Homo sapiens: one gene and its partner. The protein of the gene in region 1 purifies or fractionates together with the protein of each later gene. This does not show direct contact. Each region holds a gene or a part of one and is shown on either strand. Other genes may lie near its edges.

What was found. The genes of interacting proteins can lie anywhere in the genome.
Region 2: the proteins of SPRYD7 (region 1) and SLC25A12 purify together in Homo sapiens (affinity purification with mass spectrometry; one large-scale study listed by BioGRID and IntAct). This does not show direct contact.

The regions. Positions count from the first base shown.
Region 1 is NC_000013.11:49,932,642-49,938,246, forward strand, and holds the start of SPRYD7 (SPRY domain-containing protein 7), read right to left. Parts: upstream 3,700-5,605; 5' UTR 3,595-3,699; coding exon 3,489-3,594; intron 1-3,488.
Region 2 is NC_000002.12:171,883,195-171,888,337, forward strand, and holds part of SLC25A12 (electrogenic aspartate/glutamate antiporter SLC25A12, mitochondrial), read right to left. Parts: intron 1-5,143. UniProt on the Homo sapiens protein: Mitochondrial electrogenic aspartate/glutamate antiporter that favors efflux of aspartate and entry of glutamate and proton within the mitochondria as part of the malate-aspartate shuttle.

The sequences.
Region 1 (5,605 bases):
CTGAATATTCGAACTGTATGGGACTCTTCCAGAAGGGGTTAAATAAAATTAGGTCATAGTAACAAAAGGTTGAATTAACAGTTAAACAAAATTATTTGGTACAAATACATAAAAGAAATGCAAAATTTTCAGATTCTAACACAATTCTAAACTGGTTAAGAGATGCTCTCCCTTAAACAAGGCAAAACTGAGATCCTATTGTATGATTACTAAAAATTCATTAACATCTTTTTTTTTCTAATTAAAAAAGTTAACCCCCAAATTCTGGGAAAGTACCTTTATAAATAATTTGCATCTGGCTACTCCATATACCTCCAGTAATTTCAACTGGAGAGCATCCTCCTTGATGGCAAAGACCATGCAGTGCTTGGCATTGAGCAGCTGCTCATCAAATAACTGATAAAGGTTGAATTAATATGCTGTGCTAAGCACTTTGTAGTGGACATGCAGTATCTGTTCTCCCTCTCCCGACAGACTTCCCTCTGGAGATCAAAACAGTTCCAAGAAAGCTGACTCAATCTCTGCTTCAGGTGTACAACATTTGATCTAGGTTAAGGCAATCAGTGCCCTCCACATTTCTTGGCCACAGTAACTGAGTCAAGAACTGCTACATGACCTAATCAACTACAATCAGAATCTCAGGACTTTTGCAGAGCACAATGGGATATAACACTCTTGGCCAGGCGAGGTGGCTAACACCTGTAATCCCAGCTCTTTGGGAGGCTGAGGCAGGCAGATTACTTGAGGTCAGGAGTTCAAGACCAGCCTGGCCAACATGGTGAAACCCCCATCTCTACTAAAAATACAAAAATTAGCCAGGCATGGTGGTGGGCGCCTATAGTCCCAGCTACTCAGGAGGCTGAGACAGGAGAATTAATTGAACCCAGGAGGCGGAGGTTGCAGTGAGCTGAGATCAGGCCACTGCACTCCAGCCTGGGCGACAGAGCGAGATTCCCTCTCAAAAAAAAAAAAAAGAAAAAAAAAGAAAGAAAGAATATTCAGGGTGTTTATGAGTCATTAGGGAATCATTTTAAGCTTATCCCATTTCTCTTAAGTACACAGACGGTTTTAGAATCTGTACTTTTAATGATTGGTGCTGCTTAGACGGTCAAGGCAAATTTGAGTACAGCCAGAATGCCACATAAACATAGCCACAGAGGATGTTTTAAGAAACATAAATTTCCAAATGAGCGGTGTCCCTTTCAAAGTAGCTGCCTTGGAAGTCATTTGTTTCTAAAATGTCGATTCACAATTAAAAGCCAAAGATATGGCATCAATGATAATACTTACAAAAATTATGCCATAGAAAATTCCAAAAGAGGAATTCCAAAGTGGTTTTAAGTAATACAACATCACTAAAATAAGTGACAACCCTCGGAGAATCACTTGAAGTATACAGACAATTTTGTTAAAAAAAAAAAAGCAATCACATTTTTTAGGTTATTTAATATAATAATCTTTCACACCACCAAATCCATGTGTTTCTATTTTCAAGTCAAGATCAATTCATGCTTGAAACATGTTCTTCTAACTCAACAACCCTTTTCTTTCATTTTATTCAGGTTCTCAAATCAGGCTCCTCTGTGATTGAATAATTTAAGTTTATAGAAAGACAGGCTAAGAAAAAACTTCCTGGCCGGGCGTGGTGGCTCACCCCTATAATCCCAGCACTTTGGGAGGCTGAGAGGCAGGCAGATCACGAGGTCAGTTCGAGACCAGCCTGACCAACATGGTGAAACTCTGTCTCTACTAAAAATACAAAAATTAGCCGGGCTTGATGGTGGGCGCCTGTAATCCCAGCTACTCAAGAGGCTGAGGCAGAAGAATTGCTTGAACCCGGGAGGCGGAGGTTGCAGTGAGTGGAGATTGTGCCACAGCACTCCAGCCTGGGCAACAATAGTGAAACTCCGTCTCAAAAAAAAAAAAAAAAAAAAAAGAAAAGAAGAAGAAAAAACTTCCATGCAGTTAGAAAATTTGGAGATGACATTACTCTATTTCATCCAGTTAGTAGCTGACAGTTGCTGGACAGCTTTGGAGAAATAAAACACAGTGGAATGAGTATATCTGACCAGCTCTTCCTAGAGGAAACAGATGACAGAGAAAAGGAATGCTCCAAAGAGGAGACTGCAGTAATTCAAGAGTCTAACAGTAAAGATAGGAAGAAGTGCTGCAGTTGATCATGAGTTCCAGGAATTATGTATGGTTGTCCTTCACTATATTCTCAGCACTTATAACAATGCCTGCCACCTGATAATTGCTTAATAAATATCACTTCAGTAAATGAGTAACTGAAATGGAAATATTTTCTGAGGAAAACTATAGAATTTGAACTCCATCGTCTATAAATAATGATGGATAAAAAATAATTTAAAGATTACTTATGTATTAAGGTTCTGTACTACATTTGGGAGATCTGAGAATTAAAAGTAAATACACACATACAAGGTGATTATATAGTTATCACATTTAGTATGTGTTATACAAAAATACAGTGGGCAGAGTGTTTCCAGAATTATAAGGAAACTGGGCGAGAGAGTTTTATCATAAATATTAAGAAGTGCCTTTTTATTTCAATGCACTGTCCTTTAAACAATCAGAAACGTGTAAAAAATCAAAAGTGCAGAAGTACAGTTAGAATAAAATAATCCACAAAAAGACAGTACTCTAACTGAAATAATTATATTGGGAAATCTCTCCTTCTAGAACCACATTCCAGAAGCATGAAACTACCTGGGAAAAGTCTAAGAAATAATAAGGTGGTGAAAGAGGCTATGATGGGAGAGGAAGAATGTTAGATAAATTATATGGATTTGGAATTAAAAGGATAAAGCAAGATGCAAAGGAGCAAAGTGCTATTTTATTTTTCAACAGTTAGACCTGTTGGGAAGAGGCCAGTCAGATGAAATTACAGTACCTCTCACAATGACTAAGGAGTCGGGCAATGGGAGGTTTTAGTTGAAATGGCAAGTTCTGACCTGAGGTGCGACTTCAGACTTCTGCAGTCTGCCTTGTTTCGACTTTAGGAGGTGAGAGGAAAATTACTTCCAATAATATAGGATTCAACCTATAAATGATGGGGCTCAAGAGACAGGACCGACAGTCAGGGCAGGAGGAGGAGCAAGACCGGACCTAGAAGCATTCTGAAAATGTGTAGGTTTTCACTGGGGCGCGCCAGAAGGGCACTCTCCGCCCCCTCGCCCGAGGACGTGTGACATCTCCGGAGGAAGCCTCCGAGATTCCTGTGAAAATGGGAGGTCCACACGCCCATTCGCGATGACAGACACAGAGAGGGCTGCGCAGCCTTGAACACAGAACCGGGCCCAGGTGGAGTCCGCCGGCTTCTGGAGAGATCTGCGAGACGAAATGGTGTCGGCGCAGCGTCGCCGGCGCGGCGGGGCAGCGTGGGGACCCTCTGACCCTGAAGGTCCCCCTGCCCGCCGCGCCCGGCCCCCGTGAGCCGTTGGGTCTGGGGAAGGGAGGGCCCTTACCCATGTGCTGCGTGTCCAGCTGCACGGCCGGCATCTCCTTCAGAGGGATGTGGCCAGTCCCCCCGTCTCTGCAGCACCGCAGGCAGCACAACACCGAGGTGGCCATCGCGCAGGGACCACCGACTCCGCCGCCGTCCCTAGACCGAGGCGACACTGCCCCCCGCCGCTCAGCTCCGTCTCCTGCCCCCGCCCGAGGTCCGGACTTGTCTATGTGGAGCTCGGAGGCCGGTACAGCGACACCCTAGGCCGGGAGGGCGCAATGCAGGCTGAGCTTAGGCTGGCCTGCGAGGAAGACGCGGAGAATCAAGGGGCCGGGGAGAGACCGGACAGGGCGAGCGGCCGGGCTGGGCCGGGGAGACGGGTGGGGCTAGTGGCGCGCGGAGGCGTGGCAGGGGGCGTGGCGTTGCGGGCCTGCGGATGTGGGACGGCGTGCGCCTGCGCACCAGCTGGTTTTTTCTCCTTGGGCGGTTTCGCGCACGCCCCCAGGGCTGACAGGTGAGTGGGGCTGTCTGTCCCTCAGTACTTCCAGGGGTTTTCCTATGCAGAATTTTTAAAACGCAGCACCCCTTGGTCCCGGCCTCGACATTATTTCTAGGGATGGATTGACAGAAGCGAATCAGTTTGGGGGAAGGGGAGCTAATGGAAATGACTTCCGAGTTTTCCCTCCGCGGGCCCAGGTTGAGCAGGCTTTGCCACCACGGAGAGCCCCAGTCTCCCTGCCGTGGCTGGTTTCCCTCACATGCTAAATAGACTCACGTGGGCCCCAGGAGTAATGCCTGTTAGTGACTGCACTGTGGATGTTCACCGGGGCTCACGCGGGCCCTAATGCATTTTCGGTGCAGAGACGCGCCCTACCTGGCCCATCGGGCTGCGTGGTCCGGGGCGCGTGGGAGGCCGCCCTGGGAGCAGAACGCTGGGGCGGGGTCGGGGGCGATTCTTGACCTGCCTCTTCCAAGCTCCCCCTGTCTGGTGCACTGAGGGTTCCGAGGAATGTGACGGGAACCCAGGAGGCTGCGGGAAGTCTGCTGGGTCCCGAGGGAAGCCTTCGGCTCCTACCGTCCGCTACTTTCTGCTTCCACACGGGAGGCTGTCACCTGTCATCTCCTTCCCCACTTAGATCATCCTTCCGTGGTAGATTTTACATCTTCAGGCCGGGTGCAGTGGCTCACGCCTGTAATCCCAGCACTTTGGGAGGCTGAGGTGGGCGGATCACCTGAGGTCAGGAGTTCAAGACCAGGATGGCCAACATGGTGAAACCCCGTCTCTACTAAAAATACAAAAATTAGCTGGGTGCGGTGGTGCACGCCTGTAATCCCAGCCACTCAGGAGGTTGTGGCACGAGAATCGCTTAAACCCGGGAGGCGGAGGTTACAGTGAGCCTAGATCGCGCCACTGCCCTCCAGCCTGGGCAACAGAGACTCTGTCTCCAAAAAAAAAAAAAAAAAAAAAAAGATACCGCTTGGCATCTGGAAATGTCTGGGACGACCTCTAGAATTAACCTAGCTCAAACCTCTGTTCCCAGATCAGTTTCATCCTGAAGGCTTCCCTAGGGATGGATCATCAAGTCCTGGGAAACTGGACATAAAATGCCCACTACTTAAATAATGATTTCCCATACGTAACTTTTAGTGACCCGAGTTATAAATGTTTTTTAAGGAGGATTTCTATCTATGCAATGAGGGGAATTTTTCAGGTTCCTGGTTCTCTTTCTATAAATGGTGTTTTCATTACAATACTAAGGGAAAGTTTTGTACGTTGAAATTAAGTTACCATAGAATTTAATAACCAAGGTGATTATTAAACTGATTGAGGGTTGGTCTTTTCCCCCATTGCGTATGCAGTACTTTCTTGGTAATCATTTCACACAAGAAATTTTCTTTTATGACAAACCTTCATCGTTATGCTGGGAATTAAGTGCTTTGATTTTTTTTTTTTTTTTTTTTTTTAACCCCAGGGAAGTGCTGGGGGCGGGGCAGGGGGTGAGAATTTTAACAGAATATTGGAGAGACAAAATTTTTCTACCGTTCATATATATATATCTAGTTGAATTATTTCAAGATTTCAAGGTCAGTATTGTCCCCATTTTATAGGTGAAGAAATAGGCCTAGAGGTACTAA
Region 2 (5,143 bases), on another chromosome or scaffold:
TCCTAATCTCAACTTAGAAGAGAAGGAAAGAGACAAGGAACTAAGCTTTATTTGGTTCTGCATAGTTTACATGTTATTTTATTTAATCTTTAGAACATCCCTATGTGCTAGGTGTCATTATCCCTTCTTAGACAGATGAGAAAACAGGCTCCAAAAGTAAACACCTGAGCTCAAAAGGTTTCAAATGAGGATTCAAACCCAGGTTAGACTACAAATCCCATGTAGGCTCCAGGTACACTCTGCTGCCCTCTGGATGAAAAGGAGTTTCATCCAGCTCAAGATGTTCTAGGAACTCTATAGACAGGAGGACATTAAATTGAAAGAATCGGCCAGGCGTAGTGGCTCACGCCTGTAATCCCAGTACTTTGGGAGGCCATTTACCCCCATACTTAATTACCAATGCTTCAGGCACACTGGCCTTTCTGTTTGTTGAACACATCAAACCCTTTTCTATATCTAAGCTTTGTACGTGTGAGCCCTTTGGAATTCCCTCCACCACTTCACCCTCATTCCCTTTTAGTTCTCAGCTCTTAATATTGCCTCCTAAGGGCCCTTCACTGACCACTCTCTTGAAAAATGATTTAAAAAATGATGGCCCTTCTCATTATTCTGTTTACTTCCTTGGACGTGTCACAATCTGTAGTAAGCTTTTTTTTGTTTGTTTTGTTTTTTGTTTTGTTTTAAGAGACAGGGTCTTACTCTATCACCCAGGCTGGAGTGCAGTAGCATGACCCTAGCTCACTGTAACCTCAGACTCCTGGGCTCACATGATCTTCCTTCCTCAGCCTTCCTAGTAGCTAGGACTACAAGCACAGGCCACCATGCCTGGCTAATTTCTTTTCTTTTTTATCTTTTTTTTTTTTTTTGTAGAGACAGAATCTCACTTTTTTGGCCAGGCTGGTCTCAAACTAGTGGCCTCAAGTGATCCTCCTGCTTCAGCCTCCCAAAGAGGTGGGATTACAGGAATGAGCCAGTGTGCCCAGCCAATCTGTGGGCTTTTTTTTTTTTCCCCCCGAGACTGAGTCTTCCTCTGTCGCCCAGGCTGGAGTGCAATGACACGATCTCGGCTCACTGCAACCTCTGCCTCCTGGGTTCAAGCAATTCTCCCACCTCAGCCTCCCAAGTAGCTGGGATTACAGGCGCCCGCCACCACGCCTGGCTAATTTTTGTATTTTTAGTAGAGACGGGGTTTCACCTTGTTGTCCAGGCTGGTCTCGAACTCCTGACCTCGTGGTCTGCTCTGTGGGCTTTTTTAATTGTCCACCTCGCCCCTAGAATGTTAGGTTCTAGGCTGGGCACGGATGGTGGCTCTCATCTGTAATCCCAGCACTTTGGGAGGCCGAGGCAGGTACATCACCTGAGGTCAGGAGTTCGAGACCAGCCTGGCCAACATGATGATACCCCCATCTCTACTAAAAATACAAAAAAAATTTAGCCAGGTGTGGTGGTGCACATCTGTAATCCCAGCTACTCAGGAGGCTGAGGCAGGAGAATTGCTTGAACCTGGGATGCAGTGGTTGCAGTGAGCTGAGACTGCGCCATTGCACTCCAGCCTGGGCAACAAGAGCAAAACTCTGTCCCCCACCAAAAAAAAAAAAGAATGTGAGGTTCTACCTTCACTGAGGTCCTTTGTATTGTCCCTACCCTCACTAAACAGCTCTATCTTATCTCTATAAAGGTAGAACCTAGTACAGTGCTTAGCCTGGTACATAGTAGGCAATTAAAAGTGTATTGATCGGCCAGGTGCGGTGGCTCACGCCTATAATCCCAGCACTTTGGGAGGCCGAGGAGGGTGGATCACAAAGTCAGGAGACTGAGACCATCCTGGCTAACACGGTGAAACCCTGTCTCTACTAAAAATACAAAAAATTAGCTGGGCGTGGTGGCGGGCGCCTGTAGTCCCAGCTACTCGGGAGGCTGAGGCAGGAGAATGGCGTGAACCTGGGAGGCGGAGCTTGCAGTGAGCCCAGAGACTCCGTCTCAAAAAAAAAAAAAAAGTGTATTGATTGGTAGTAGAACATCACATGGCATTTAATAACACTAATTTTCTTATCTTTTTATTATTTTTCAATCCTTCTGCTTGATTCAAGGACAAAGTCTCACTATCCTGCTAGTCTGCCTTTAATGCCTAATACTGTTCTTTTTTTTTTTAATGAGAACTCTATATAGTTTATGTTAAATACTTTCTAAAGTATTTAGAAAAGGCTGGGCATGGTGGCTCATGCCTGTAATCCCAACACTTTGGGAGGCTGAGGCAGGTGGATCACCTGAGGTCAGGAGTTCGAGACCAGCCTGACCAAGATGGTGAAACCCTGTCTCTACTAAAAACACAAAAATTAGCTAGGCATGTGTCTGTAATCCCAGCTACTCAGGAAGCTGAGGCATGAGAATTGCTTGAACCCGGGAGGCGGAGGTTGCAGTGAGCCAAGATCATGCCACTGCACTCCAGTCTGGGTAACACAGTAAAACTCTGTCTCAATAAATAAATAAATAAATAAATAAATAAATAGGTTATCATCTTCAATTTCCATATTTCTGAGGAACTGGTGAAAACCCTCAATTATAATAGCATGGTTAATAAAACTATAGATCCTTTTCTGTGTGTCTCATACTGGGTTTATTCAATCCAAATTATGCTGGGAAATCCTCTTGTAGCTTCAGGCTCTGAATTGCTAAATTCTTACTTTTTAAATTACTCACTTGCTCAAAGCTTAATACATATACATTGAGACTATTTTTATTTTCCTCTTTATTCTTCCCTCAAGTTAACAACCTAGTATTTATCCTTTCATAACTTTCTCAGTGCTCATTAAATCATACACAAACATATTATATGTAAACATACATGAAATGACTTTGTTTTACAAATCAGAATCATGCTATATATACTTATTTGCATCTTTCTCACTTAATAGTACATTGCAAAATTTCTCTAAATTGGTGGTCTAGGCCTAACTCATTCTTTTTAGTATCTGCATAACTTTCATAGTATAGTTATTCCATAAGTCTTCTACCACTCCTCTTTAATATAATAGCTTTTTTTTTTTTTTTTTTGAGACAGAGTCTCACTCTGTCACTCAGGCTGGAGTGCAGTGGTGCACATGGCTCACTGCAGCCTCAACCTCCTAGGCTTAGGTGATCCTCCCACCTCAGCCTCCCAAGTAACTGGGACTATAGGCTCATGCCACCACCACACCCAGCTAGGTTTTTGTATTTTTTGTAGAGATGGGGTTTTGCCACGTTGCCTAGGCTGTTTTTTTTTTTTTTCTTTTTTGAGGAAAAATTCAGTGCTGCAGTTAACCTTGTACATATATATTCTTTTTTTTTTGTTTTGAGACAGAGTTTCGCTCTGTCGCCCAGGCTGGAGTGCAGTGGCGCGATCTCGGCTCACTGCAACCTCAGCCTCCCAGGTTCACGCCATTCTCCTGCCTCAGCCTCCCGAGTAGCTGGGACTACAGGCACCCGCCACCATGCCCGGCTAATTTTTTTGTATTTTTTGTAGAGACAGGGTTTCACCATGTTAGCCAGGATGGTCTCAATCTCCTGACCTTGTGATCCGCCCACCTTGGCCTCCCAAAGTGCTGGGATTACAGGCATGAGCCACCACATCTTGCCCTATATTCTTATATTTTTACAAATATTTTTATTTCTCTGGGATAAATAATCCAAAAGAAAATACCATTGTTTGTTCAAATGATATTTTCTTTTTATTTTAAACCATTGCCAGCTTGCTTTTCAGAGTCTTTGTTTCCACAAATACTGTATCACCCTTTAATACTTGATAATCTTATTGTTACTCTAATATTGTGGTATACCTTCCACACTTTTGGAAACACAGCCCTAATGTATATTTCAACAAAGAGTAAGGGTCTCCTGCTAAAAGCCCTGCTTTATTCCCTTCTCAGCTCCAGGCTACTGTCAAAAATAAGTAAATAAAATACATAAACTATTTGAATAAAAGAACATATCTTTCTATTAAAAATAAATGTTATTGTAAAAACCCTAAGGAGGAATCGCCCTTTGCTTTACATTAACAGTATCTTCTCCTCTTTATTCTCTAACCTAAAATAAGACAGGAAAAAAGCACATTTTCATAATTTTGTATGGGATACGATCTTCATTGTTACATTGGTGATAATGAAAAAAGAACAAAATTAAAATAATATTTGAGGTCTACATTTCAGTAAATTTTTGATCTGGCAAATATAGTTGCAGTCTTAACATATATTGCCTTTACTATACAACACACCAGCAAACAAAAGAAGCCTATTAACTAAAAAGAGAGAGAGATTAAAAAATAATTCATTTAAATGTTTTTGATAAATCTACTTTGCCACAAGGGACAGACAAAATTAACTCTTCATTTAGAAATTTGTCAGACTTATGTTCCTGCTGTCCCACCTCACCTTCTTCTTCACTGCTTCTATTGTCTCCTTTTGCTACTGTACACTGCTGATGTAGCTAAATTGAATCAATGACAGTGTGTGGGTGAGAGAGGTTAAAAGAAAAAAGGGATAAATCAAGAAATGACAGTTGTAAGGGTGGTAATGGTAAAATCTTAGCTTAAACCAGTTGTAAAATTACAGCACAGCCTAACACATAAGAATTCATTTGTTGTACTCCAATTTCATGAACTTGGCAGAGTGGAGGTGGGCAGAAAAAGGCAGAATCTTAGTGCATACTGTTGTTGTTGATGTTTTTTAACTAATAGAAACATAGCTCATCAAAACTTGAGAAGCAATGAACACCACAGGAAAAATGAACCTATTTCCCTATATTCAAAATAATAATGCTTTACTCTTATAAAGCCCTTCTTATGAACTCCCACACCAATTCTCATACAATTTCACTAAACATAGATACATAAATAAGTCAGTTGCCACTTTCTTTTCTTTTTTCCTTTTTTTTTTTTTTTTTGGAGACAAAGTCTTGTTCTGTCACCCATGCTGGAGTGCAGTGGTATAATGATAACTCATTGTAACCTCGAACTTCTGGGCTCAAGTGATCCTCCCATCTCAGCTTCCAGAGCAGCTAGGACCACAGGCATGTACCACCGCACCCAGCTAAATCTATATACATATATTTGTAGCCATGGAATCTCGCTTTGTTGCCCAGGCTGGTCTTGAACTCCTGGCCTCAAGTG